Linked DNA regions of Homo sapiens. The protein of the gene in region 2 purifies or fractionates together with the protein of the main gene of each other region. This does not show direct contact. Each region holds a gene or a part of one and is shown on either strand. Other genes may lie near its edges. The genes, in order: TSC22D3, CDC42SE2 and HPN.

Region 1 (3,650 bases), on a different chromosome or scaffold from region 2:
TGTTTCTTTTTCTTTTTTACTGCTACAGCCTATGAACCAAAAAGGCAGAGGGGATAGGGAGAAGAAAGGGGCTGGAAGCCTGGGAGGAGTCCCACAAAGGAAAATTCTGCATCTCCATCTCAGGTCCCCTAATTTTCACTGGATTCTGTGATCTGGGGGACTAAGGGTGCCAAGCTCTTCTGAGCCCTGAGATGGTAGTCTTGAGCTTGTCCAAGAACTTATGAGTCAGCTTTGGATACAAATCATGCCTGCTGGTAATTCCCACACCACCTTTTTGACTTTGTTTCCCTGTTTCTCCTCTATTTCTTGGAGTGGAGAGCAGTGTCCCCACCTACTCACAGCCTGTGAGCCATTTACTTGATGGCAACACACGTGAGACAGGCTGGGGAAAAGACAAAGGAAGAGAAGAAGAGGAGCTATTGGTTTAGTTACAAACCTTGAGCTAGTGGAATATTAGATTGATGGGGGTATTCTGTGCTGTAGATAGTCACATTTGTTATTAGAGAAATCTGTCATAGAATCTGGCAATACTGACTTCACTGGGGGCTCAGTTCCACTAAGCCGGTAATGTAATTTTCTGAATAGGCCAGGCAGAGAGCTAAGAATCACTGTGAATTCAGGTCAACCTGGGGACTTTGAGACTTCATGGAGCGTGGACTGGGAATTGGCTCTTGAAAGGCCTTCCTTTAAACAGCTCCTCCACCTTCCGGTAAACCCTTTCACCTGGTGTCAGTCAGCCTGGAGTTTCCGCCCCCCCCCCAACAACTCCCCCCACCCCAACCCACCCAGTAGTTTCTGAACCAACAAGCAGATACAAAAGGAAGAGGGACTTCTGCGACCTGTTCTGGGGCCTCTCCATGCACCACGCAGTTTCTTTAGCAGTGCATTATCAGGTGATAGTAGGTTCCTCCCTGCCACCTCCAAAATGCCTCAAGCCAAATTAAGTCCACTCCAGCTTGCCTGTCTGCTTACATTTACTGCTGAGTGTGGAGGCTGAGTGTGGGACCGGGTCAGGCTTTGCTGCCTGGCATTTGCCTCTGAGCAGACTGCTTGCCTGACACTGGGGAGAGTAGGCTTTTCCTTGGGAAGTATGATGAGCTTGACTTGGACCCCCAGCAGGCTTCCAAATGCCTGTCCCCAGGGAAGCCTACCACTGAGCAAGCAGAAGTGTGATGCCTCAGTAACCTGGCTGTTACATAAGATGTGCTAGTTATGAGTCAGGGCCCTCAGGCTGGCCTAGGCCCAGCCTAGTCTGGGAGTGAGGCTAAACGGCAGCGCTGAAGGAGGGGTGTCTTGGGAGTGGGGTAAGCCAGGAAGGAGCTGCTGGAGTCGCTTCCTTTCCTCTCACTTCTCACCCCCTTCTTCCTTAGGGATAGCTCTAGCCAATCACCAGCCTAGATAGCACGGAGCGGGAATCCTGGCCAGACCCCTAAGCTGTGAACAGCTGCTCTCCATCTCCCCTGAAGAGAAGATTAGAAGAAGTGGGTTGAATACTCAAGCCTATTCTGTGAGTAAAGTCTTCCTTCGAGGAAGGATGGGGAAGGTCCCTGTGTGCTCTGTCCATAGGCAGGGGCCCGATTTCTGGCTGGACCTATTTGAGGAAAGTGGCTCCCAGGAGAGGAAGGCCAATGGTGAGCCTGGATCATCAGTGATCCAGCCTGCTTCCAGCTCTTGTTTTCCCTCGGGCTAGTGTCTGCACAATGGGAAGCTTCCCATTCAGTCTTCTGTGCTGGCTGGGATCTTAATGCCTCTTATACAGTTTCCAGAAGGGCCACAGCTACTTTGGGGCAGGAATTTTCAGCTAGAAGGTACAAGTGAACTTGCCTTGCCTACTGATGAAATTCCCTCCTGCCTGGAATAGAATCGAGAAAAGCTTGCTTTCTGCTCTCACAGATCGCATCTTAGCCCCACTCCAACTCTAGTTAAGCTGGATTTCAGCATGGTAGACAGTGGCCTCCAAAAGACATTTTCCCTGACCTGACTCTTCATCAAACCTAGGTTGCCCTGAAACTGGGATCTAGCCTTCTGGCCTTCATGGGGCTCCTCCTAGCCCATGGGGTTCTGTGGAGGGCCTTTTCTGCCAAAGCTGTGGTGCTACAGCAATGCCCTAACCCTTGTCCCATTATTGCAGACTTTGGGACAGCACAGTATGTTCTGGGCCATTATTGTTCTCTTTATTTAAAAGGAAATTTCATCTTTCTGACCCCTGTGGTCATGGACTCCTCTCCCCTGAGTTCACTGAGCACACAAAATACCCCATCAAATGAACCCATGTTTTAGTCTCAACTTAGCACATTGGTTTCTCCAGGGTTCAAGAGGCTATTGCACGATACCAACCAATTTGTTATATAAGCCCAGCCAGCCATGGCAGATTATGGCTTTACAGTTATCTCTAGGGATGGCTTACATAAGAAGAAGAGAAAGTTCAGGTAGGAGCAGAATCACGATGAGCAAACAGCGCAACAGCCACCACCAGGTGCAGACATGGCCAAACTCATTCCTCCCAACCAACCCACCCACCAGGTGGGGGCAAGAACTCTGCAGGGTTCCATCACCCGGGATGCCTAGAGGTCTTGGCAGTCTTGGCCAGATACATCCATCTCCATTTTACCCAGACTCCCTGGCCTTCAGTACCTGATCTGGAAAGGAGCCAACCCTCTACCTGGAATGGAGAGCTTGTTGGATTATCTGCAAGTGCAAATATAAGCAGGAGTGTTAACCTTCTCTTCAGGCAGGGAAGAAAACTAAGGTCACCCTGGAAAGCATTATTTGCTGAGGTGTGGACTCAGTAAATAATAGTCCACTCCTGGCAAAAACTGAGGAGTAGATGAAATTCAAGCTCTGTGCTTCCCACCTTTCTTTAAGAGCATGAACTTTCCAAACAGATCTTTTGAACTCTCATGCTGTCCAGGCCCCGTGCTGTAACAGCCCAAGCTAGGCCTTCCATGGACTCCAGCCCCATCTCTCTACCTCTCTCCTCCAAAGTTGGCTTTGCCACATTCCAGTCCCATAGGACCCTATTCCCAGTGGGCTGTCACCATGACCAGAGGTCTGATAAACAAATCCATACAAAGTAGTTAATGGCAAGTAATGGTGTCACATGTTACTCTTTAAAAAGGTATGCTAGACCTTGGCCATTCATGAGAGATACACACTAAAACTTTTGCCAGTCTCCAACTCATGGATGCAATCTCCAAAGCATGTCATTTCCCCCATAAAAAGTCCATTCCCAGGCAGCACCATCACTTTGCCAAACTTTGTAGCTTTCTCTTCGTTGTAATCACTAGCACCAGCAGCTGGCTTAGAGAGGGAGCATTCTCCTCAAGGAATGCCCTGAGACATTTGCTCATTTTATGACAGGTTCCTACGTATGTGTTGACTACGAGCAGTAGACCACAAAATTGTGTTGAAAAGTAGGTGCTGGGCAATGCCACTCCTAGGTATATACCCCAAAGAATTAAAAGCAGGGACTTGAACAGATACTTGTACACCAGTGTTCATAGCAGCATTCTTCATAATAGCCAAAAGAGGGCAACAACCTAAGTGTCCACTGACAGATGAATGGATAAGCAAAAGAGGTATATCCATACAATGGAATTTTATTCAGCCATAAAAAGAATGAAGTACTGATATGTGCTACAACATGGATG
Region 2 (3,650 bases):
CAGGCTGGTCTCGAACTCCTGACCTCAGGTAATCAGCCCGCCTCGGCCTCCCAAAGTGCTGGGATTACAGGCATAAGCCACTGCACCTGGCCTAACTTTGATGTTTTCTAAAATGTCTAAGGTCTTATAGCAATCCTTAGCTGTCTAACTGATCCATCCCCACTCCGTTTCCTCAACCACTTCCCTTGAAGTAACCTTGAACCATCTAAACACTGAGCACACTGCACTTCCTCTGTTTCACTGTGGCAACTCCAGCACCATCACTTGCACATATCCTCATGCCCCCACCCTGACTATTATAGGTTAAAACTATACATCAGAACAACAACAAATGGCAGAAAGAAAAGCCACAAAGGGAATAAGCAACCTTATTGCAGAGCATATTCCATACTCAACTCCAGACAGCTGAGGAGGCTAAATGTGCATGAAGGAGTGAAGTGGCTCACTGGGCTACAGTGTGCAGTATGGTTTGTCAGTGCTCTCTGTCTGAGCATACAGTAAGTCAAACCACTAGAAAAAATAGGTATGTTCTTCCACATACTTTGGCTTTTTGCTCTAAACCATTCAATGATTTCCTATTTCACAAAGAATAAAAACCAGTCTTTTCATGACCTGGAAGACCAAACATGAACTGGCCCTTGGTTACCTCTTAGACCTCATTCCCACCACTGGCCCCATGCCTCACAGCCACTCTGCCTTCTCTGATGTTCCACTCACACACCCAACCTTGCACTTACTACTCACTCTAAGTGCTTTGCCCCAAGTATTTGTGTATTTTACTCCCTTAAACTTGTGCCTATACAGCACTTAATCTGAGAGGCCTTCCCTGAACACACTATTTAAATTCATATCCCCATTTCTCCAACGTCATCCTCTTTTTTCTTGCTTTCTTTTTCCACGGTGCACTTATCACCACCTGATACCATACATACTTATTTGTACAGTAAATATGTCCTCCACTAAAGTGAGACAAGATGATGGTAGAGATGACATCTGTTGTATTCACTGTTATCTCACCACTACCTGGCTCATTGTAGAAATACCAGAGTGTTATTGTTACAAATGTACTGTAAGTGCGTACATGTCCAAAATAACACATTCCAAGGCCAGGTGTGGTGGCTCATGCCTGCAATTCCCAGCACTTTGGAAGGCTGAGGCAGGAGGATCATTTGAGGTCAGGAGTTCGACATCTGCCTGGCCAACAAGGTGAAACTCCATCTCTACTAAAATATAAAAATTAACCGGGTGTGGTGGCACATGCCTGTAGTCCCAGCTACTCGGGAGGCTGAGGCAGGAGAATTGTCTGAACCTAGGAGGCGGAGGTTGCAGTGAGCCAAGATCGCACCACTGCACTCCAGCTTGGGAGACACAGCGAGACTCCTTCTCAAAAAAAAAAAAAAAAAAGAGTAAGAGAAAAAAAAAAGGCCGGGCGCGGTGGCTCACAGCTATAATCCCAGCACTTTGGGAGGTCGAGGAGGGTGGATCACTTGAGGTCAGGAGTTCGAGACCAGCCTGGCTAACATGGAGAAACCCCATCTCTACTGAAACTACAAAAATTAGCTGGGCATGGTGGAGGGTGCCTGTAATTCCAGCTACTCAGGACGCTGAGGCAGGAGAATTGCTTAAACCCGGGAGGCAGAGGTTGCAGTGAGCCAAGATCGCACCATTGCACTCCAGCCTAGGCGACAAGAGCAAAACTCCGTCTCAAAACAAACAAAAACAAATTAACACATTCCAGATACAAGCAGCATTACAAAAAATCAGTGCTATGTGGGAAACCATTAGATGGGAAGGCAAATAATATGAATAGAAAAGTGGCTTTTTTTTTTTTTTCTGTAAATCAGGGTTCCTTGTTTTTTAAAGCTACCTTAGAAGCTGACCAGTATTCTGATGCTCAATAAGTTGGTGAAGAATTCACTATAGTTCTGTCAACAGCTAATAAATCTTTTTTTTTTTTTAGATAGAGTCTTGCCCTGTCGCCAGGCTGGAGCACAGCGGCGCAATCTCAGCTCACTGCAACCTCCACCTTGCGGGTTCAAGCAGTTCTCCTGCCTCAGCCTCCGGAGTAGCTAGGACTTCAGGCACATAACATCACACCGGCTAATTTTTTTTTTTAGTAGAGACAGGGTTTCACCATGTTGCTCAGGCTGGTCTCGAACTCCTGAGCTCAGGCAATCCCCCTGCCTTGGCCTCTCAAAGTGCTAGGATTACAGGTGTTAGCCACTGCGCCCAGCCCTAACAAATCTTTTTAAAAAATTAAATTGCAGGGCAGCAACCATCCAGTTAAAAATCTACAACCTTAGCTATATCTAGCAACAGCAACTACAGCATTACTAAGTTACTAAGTTTTGGAATACCACGGCTCAAAACATTGGGGCTCTATTATACCCTGCATTGTACTATATTAAAATGAAGGAGTAGGAGGAGAAAAATGATTATTCTACTATACTCAGAAAAATACATTCTATTTTCTTCCCAATATTGGGTTGTTCCTTTTTCACACATGGAATGTGCAAAAGCAGGGGGTGATAGGGAACAAGTGGGAGAGTCGGCATGCAGCACTTTATTTCAGTAAATATTTTAGAAAACTTTAGCAGATGATCAAGCAGCTTTAAGATAAGGCAGTCTTGATATTGTTTAGAATACCAAGGATATGTCTTTGTATAATGTAAAGAAACAAAAATTATTAGTGATTCTTTACATCTGTTTCCTGATGCCAACAAGCAAGCTATTCCTCCATTATGGTGACCACAAAGCCCCATTAAGTTTTATGTAATTTTTCTCAGGAATCAAAAAGGTAAGAAATCAGATGTCCATGGAATTTTTATGGAATACTTCACATAAGTATGTATTCATTAAACAATAACAAACAACTAACATATGTAAATGTTGTACTGATACGGGAGTGCTGGGAAGGGAAGAGTGTGGTCCCTTTAAATGATATGGGAGTGGGAACAGGGAAGTGCTGGGTAGAGAAAGGCAGGTCCATGGCTAGGGCTCCACCCCCACGGACAAACATAGGTGAGGACAGGCACTCCTGCTTTTGGGCCCAAATGTTGCATTTTCCAAGACCACCCTGGCCCGCCGTGCCCCCATCCTGGGCCTATAAAAACCCAAGACCCTAGCAGGCAGACACATAGACAGCCAAACGTCGAGAGGAGCACATCAGCGGAAGAAGACACAAGCGGTTAGACGGTGAAAAGACGTCGAGGGAACACGCCTGCACAAGAGCACACCAACAGACACCAGCATGCCAGCAGGCCATCAACTGGCTGGATGAGGCGGAGTTTGGCCGGGGCAGTTAAAGGAGAGCTGGGGCCACCTAGCAGCCCAACTCCAGGGGAAAACCATCTCCATTCTGGCTCCCTCATCGACAGAGAGCTACTTCCACTCAATAAAACTTTGCACTCCTTCTCCAAGCCCACGTGTGATCCAATTCTTCTAGCACACCAAAGCAAGAACCCAGGATACAGAAAGCCTTCTGTCCCTGTGACAAGGTAGAGGGTCTAACTGAGCTGGTTAACACAAGGCAAACTAAAAAAGCACCCTGTAACACACGCCTTCTGGCACTTCAGCTATAAAGATTCATCCCTAGACATTGTCGTGGGGTCAGAACCCCACAGCTCCCCGTCTGTATGCTCCCCTAGAGG
Region 3 (3,650 bases), on a different chromosome or scaffold from region 2:
CAATTTCCCCCAAATGCAAAATGTTGGGATGTAACAGCCCTAACTTCATAGGCCTGCTGGGTAAAGGCTGCCGCCAGGGCCTGGCATATGTCAGTCTTTACTATGGCAATGAATTCAGCTGTTCTTTTTTTTTTTTTTTAACAAGCAATCAAGTGTAGACACTATATACAGTTACTACGCAGGCTGCCTGGGTTCAAATCCCAGCCCTGACACTGACTAGCTCCATGACCTGGGGCAAGTCACTCAGCCTTTCTGTGCCTCAGCATCCCCATAGGAAAATGGGTTGTGGTGGTGCACACCTGTAATCCCTGCACTTTGGGAGGCTGATCTGAGAGGACTGCTTTGAGCTCAGGAGTTCAAGATCAGACTGGGCAATGTAGCAAGATCCCATCTCTACTAAAAATTTAAAAAATGAGGTTGGGTGTGGTGGCTCATGCCTGTAGTCCCAGCACTTTGGGAGGCCGAGACGGGTGGATCACCTGAGGTCAGGAGTTTGAGACCATCCTGGCCAACATGGTGAAACCCCGCCTCTACTAAAAATACAAAAATTAGCTGGGTGTGGTGGCACGTGCCTGTAGTCCTAGCTACTCAGGAGGCTGAGGCAGGAGAATCACTTGAACCTGGGAGATGGAGATTGCAGTGAGCCAAGATCGCGCCACAGCACTCCTGCCTGGGCGACACAGCGAGACTCTGGCTCAAAAAGATAAAAATAACAATAATTTGTTATTGACAAAATAATTTTGTGTAGGCATGGTGGCATTAGCCTATAGTCCCAGCTACTCAGAAGGCTGAGATGGGAGGATTGCTTGAGCCCAGGAGATGTAGGTTACAATGAGCTAAGATCGTGTCACTGCACTCCAGCCTGGGCGACAGAGCAAGACCCCATCTCAAAAAAAAAAAAAAAAAAAAGAAAGAAAGAAAGAAAGAAAAAAAAAAGAAAAGAAAAACAACAGGTTGTTGGGAAGACTTAATGAGTTGATATCATAAGGTCCCAAGGCCTTGGCTGGTGCATACAAATGCTAAGTGCTGGTAATGATGATTAATGTTGATGTTGGCTTTTCTTGTCTGGATTTTCATTTCTGATTTTAGTGTGAACTGAATCCTTTATGGAATTAGATGAGGCTCACAGACATGAAAAATACATCCCACCACCCAACTTCCCCTTTTTTCCTGCTGTCCTGCATCAGGGAATGGCAGCTTGAAGTTGGCATTTGGGAAGATTCATTCATTCATCCCACAGTTAGTTTCTTTATCTATTTATTTGTGTGGCCATTCATTCCACATGCCTGCAGACACACTTACAGTGGATAAGTCTAAGAGCTGTTCCTGGCCCCTCGTTCCCCAGCTGCATGTCCTCTCTGGTCCTCATTTTGCACATCTGTAAAATGGAGCTAATTACCAGGGACAGGCGCAGTGGCTCATGCCTGTAATCCCAGCACTTTGGGAGGCCGAGGCGGGTGGATCACAAGGTCAGGAGATAGAGACCGTCCTGGCCAACATGGTGAAATCTCATCTCTACTAAAAATACAAAAAATTAACTGGGCATGGTGGCACACGCCTGTATTCCCAGGTACTTGGGAGGCTGAAGCAGGAGAATCGCTTGAACCTGGGAGGCAGAGGTTGCGGTGAGCTGAGACTGCACCATTGCACTCTAGCCTGGGTGACAGAGCAAGACTTTTTTCTTTTTTAAAACAAACAAACAAAAAAACTACCTCCTAGGAGAGTTAGAAGGGTCCACTGAATTTATATCATGCCTCCCCAACATGTTTTCACCATGCCACGCAGTAAGAAACACATTTTTACATCCTGATGTAGCCCATAGCTCTGTAGTCTGGGGCAAACTGCTGCATTGCTCAAAGCCTCAGTTTCCCCATCTGTAAAACAGGGAGAATAACAGTCCCACCCTCAGAGTGTGGGGATGCAGTGGGATTACATGTATATGGATGCAAAAAAAAAAAAAAACAAACAAAAATTAGCATAACCTTTACTTACTGAGAGATGTACTGTGATAGTCTGTAATCGAATCTATTTCATACTTAAAAAAAAAACATGGTTTTCCAACTCACTAATTTAATTTTATGAGGCACTCATGAGTAATACACTGGTGTCTGAAAAAGTCTGGGTTAGACATGTGGGGTGCTTAGAATAGTGCCTGGTACATAGCAGGCACTCAATACAAATGCACTATTATGATTAGCATTTCTGCATGCATTTGTGCATTTATTCAACAAATACGCTTGTTGAGCTCCCGCCAGATACACGTGTCCTCCAGGGCTCCCCCAGAGGGTCCCAGCCTGCTCCACTCACCTGGGTACAGCGGCTCCTGGTCACTCCTGAGGAGAACAGCCACTGCAGAGAAGGGAGGGGTGAGGGCAGGCAGGCTGGAGGCTGCAGGGGCCAGGGGAGGTCAGAGGCACAGGAACCGCTCTCACCAATGGCCCAGGATGCCGCCCCGATGGCTGTCAGAAGTAGCAGGGTCCCCGCAGTGAGAGCTGCCACCTTGGGTCTGGAGCAGCATGGCACAGTCCGGCCACCTGCAACAGACACCATGCTGGGGCCACAGCCAGGCCTGTCCTCATTGCGGCAGGGTCTGGGCCCGAGGCCAGCTCTGCCCTGCCCCCAGGGCTAACTTATTATGCCCAAGCATGTCCTCCCCAGGCCCAGTTTCCCGGGGCCAGCAGTTGACAGGGCTGTTCCTCCCCTGCCGTGTGAACAACCAGGTGCCCAGCTCCCCCAGGGTTCCAGCTGGGAGGGGGGCATGGCCGGGCCACCTGCCACGGTCTCCACCTCCGCCCTGCACTTTCCTGGCACTTAGGGAATGTCTCCTCCCCAGTGACACTGTGCTTTTGTATTTCTGTCTTTGCTTTGGGCCATCTCTTCTTGGGACTGTGACCCCCAACCTTTGCCCTCTTGGTAGCTCTCTTCCCTGCCGCTGGCATTTCCTCGCTGCCTCAGTCGTTTCTGCTGTTCTAGATGCTTTGCCCCTAGATACCCCCTAAATCAGACCTCTCTCATGGTACCCAGTTGCAAGATCAAATTTGCCCCTCCACTTGAAAATCTGCCAGCCTCATTTTATTTTATGTATTAATTTTTTTAGCGACGTGGTCTTGCTATGTTGCCCAGGCTGGTCTCAAACTCCTGGGCTGAAGCGATCTTCCTTCCTCAGCCTCCCAAAATGCTGAGATTACAGGAGTGAGCCACTGCGTCTGGCCAGCCTCATTTAAAAATATTGACCCTACCCCTTCCTAGCTGGAACCTAAGGCAGGTGCCATCATATCTTTGAGCCTCAACTTTCTTATCTATTAAATGGGCATCCACTGAGCACCTACTTCTAAAAATAATAATTTAAAGTTATTTTCAAGAAGAAGAAGAATAGCTCAAATTGTATTGATGCCTCCAGGTGCTAAGCACCGTTCTAAATACATCAGCTCATTTAGTCCTTATTTCAATCCCACAACTATGATTCCTGTTTTTGAGATAGCTCAGAGAAGTGGGGTCACGTGCCCACAGTGACAGCCTGGAAGAGGCAGAGCAGCGTCCAGAACCCTGGGCAGGTTTGATGCCAGGTCCCCTGTGTACAGCCACGAAGCCATCCTGGCTCTCACTGTGCGGAAGTGCCTGGCACATAGCAAGTTCTCTATAAATGCTTT

What was found.
Region 1: the proteins of CDC42SE2 (region 2) and TSC22D3 purify together in Homo sapiens (affinity purification with mass spectrometry; 2 studies listed by BioGRID and IntAct, with this or other methods). This does not show direct contact.
Region 3: the proteins of CDC42SE2 (region 2) and HPN purify together in Homo sapiens (co-immunoprecipitation; one large-scale study listed by IntAct). This does not show direct contact.

Annotation. Positions count from the first base shown.
Region 1 is NC_000023.11:107,765,703-107,769,352, forward strand, and holds part of TSC22D3 (TSC22 domain family protein 3), read right to left. Parts: intron 1-3,650. UniProt on the Homo sapiens protein: Protects T-cells from IL2 deprivation-induced apoptosis through the inhibition of FOXO3A transcriptional activity that leads to the down-regulation of the pro-apoptotic factor BCL2L11.
Region 2 is NC_000005.10:131,361,450-131,365,099, reverse strand, and holds part of CDC42SE2 (CDC42 small effector protein 2), read right to left. Parts: intron 1-3,650. UniProt on the Homo sapiens protein: Probably involved in the organization of the actin cytoskeleton by acting downstream of CDC42, inducing actin filament assembly. Alters CDC42-induced cell shape changes.
Region 3 is NC_000019.10:35,048,174-35,051,823, reverse strand, and holds part of HPN (serine protease hepsin precursor), read right to left. Parts: intron 2,562-3,650; exon of another isoform or gene 2,535-2,561; coding exon 2,433-2,534; intron 2,350-2,432; coding exon 2,308-2,349; intron 1,379-2,307; coding exon of another isoform or gene 1,303-1,378; intron 1-1,302. UniProt on the Homo sapiens protein: Serine protease that cleaves extracellular substrates, and contributes to the proteolytic processing of growth factors, such as HGF and MST1/HGFL. Plays a role in cell growth and maintenance of cell morphology.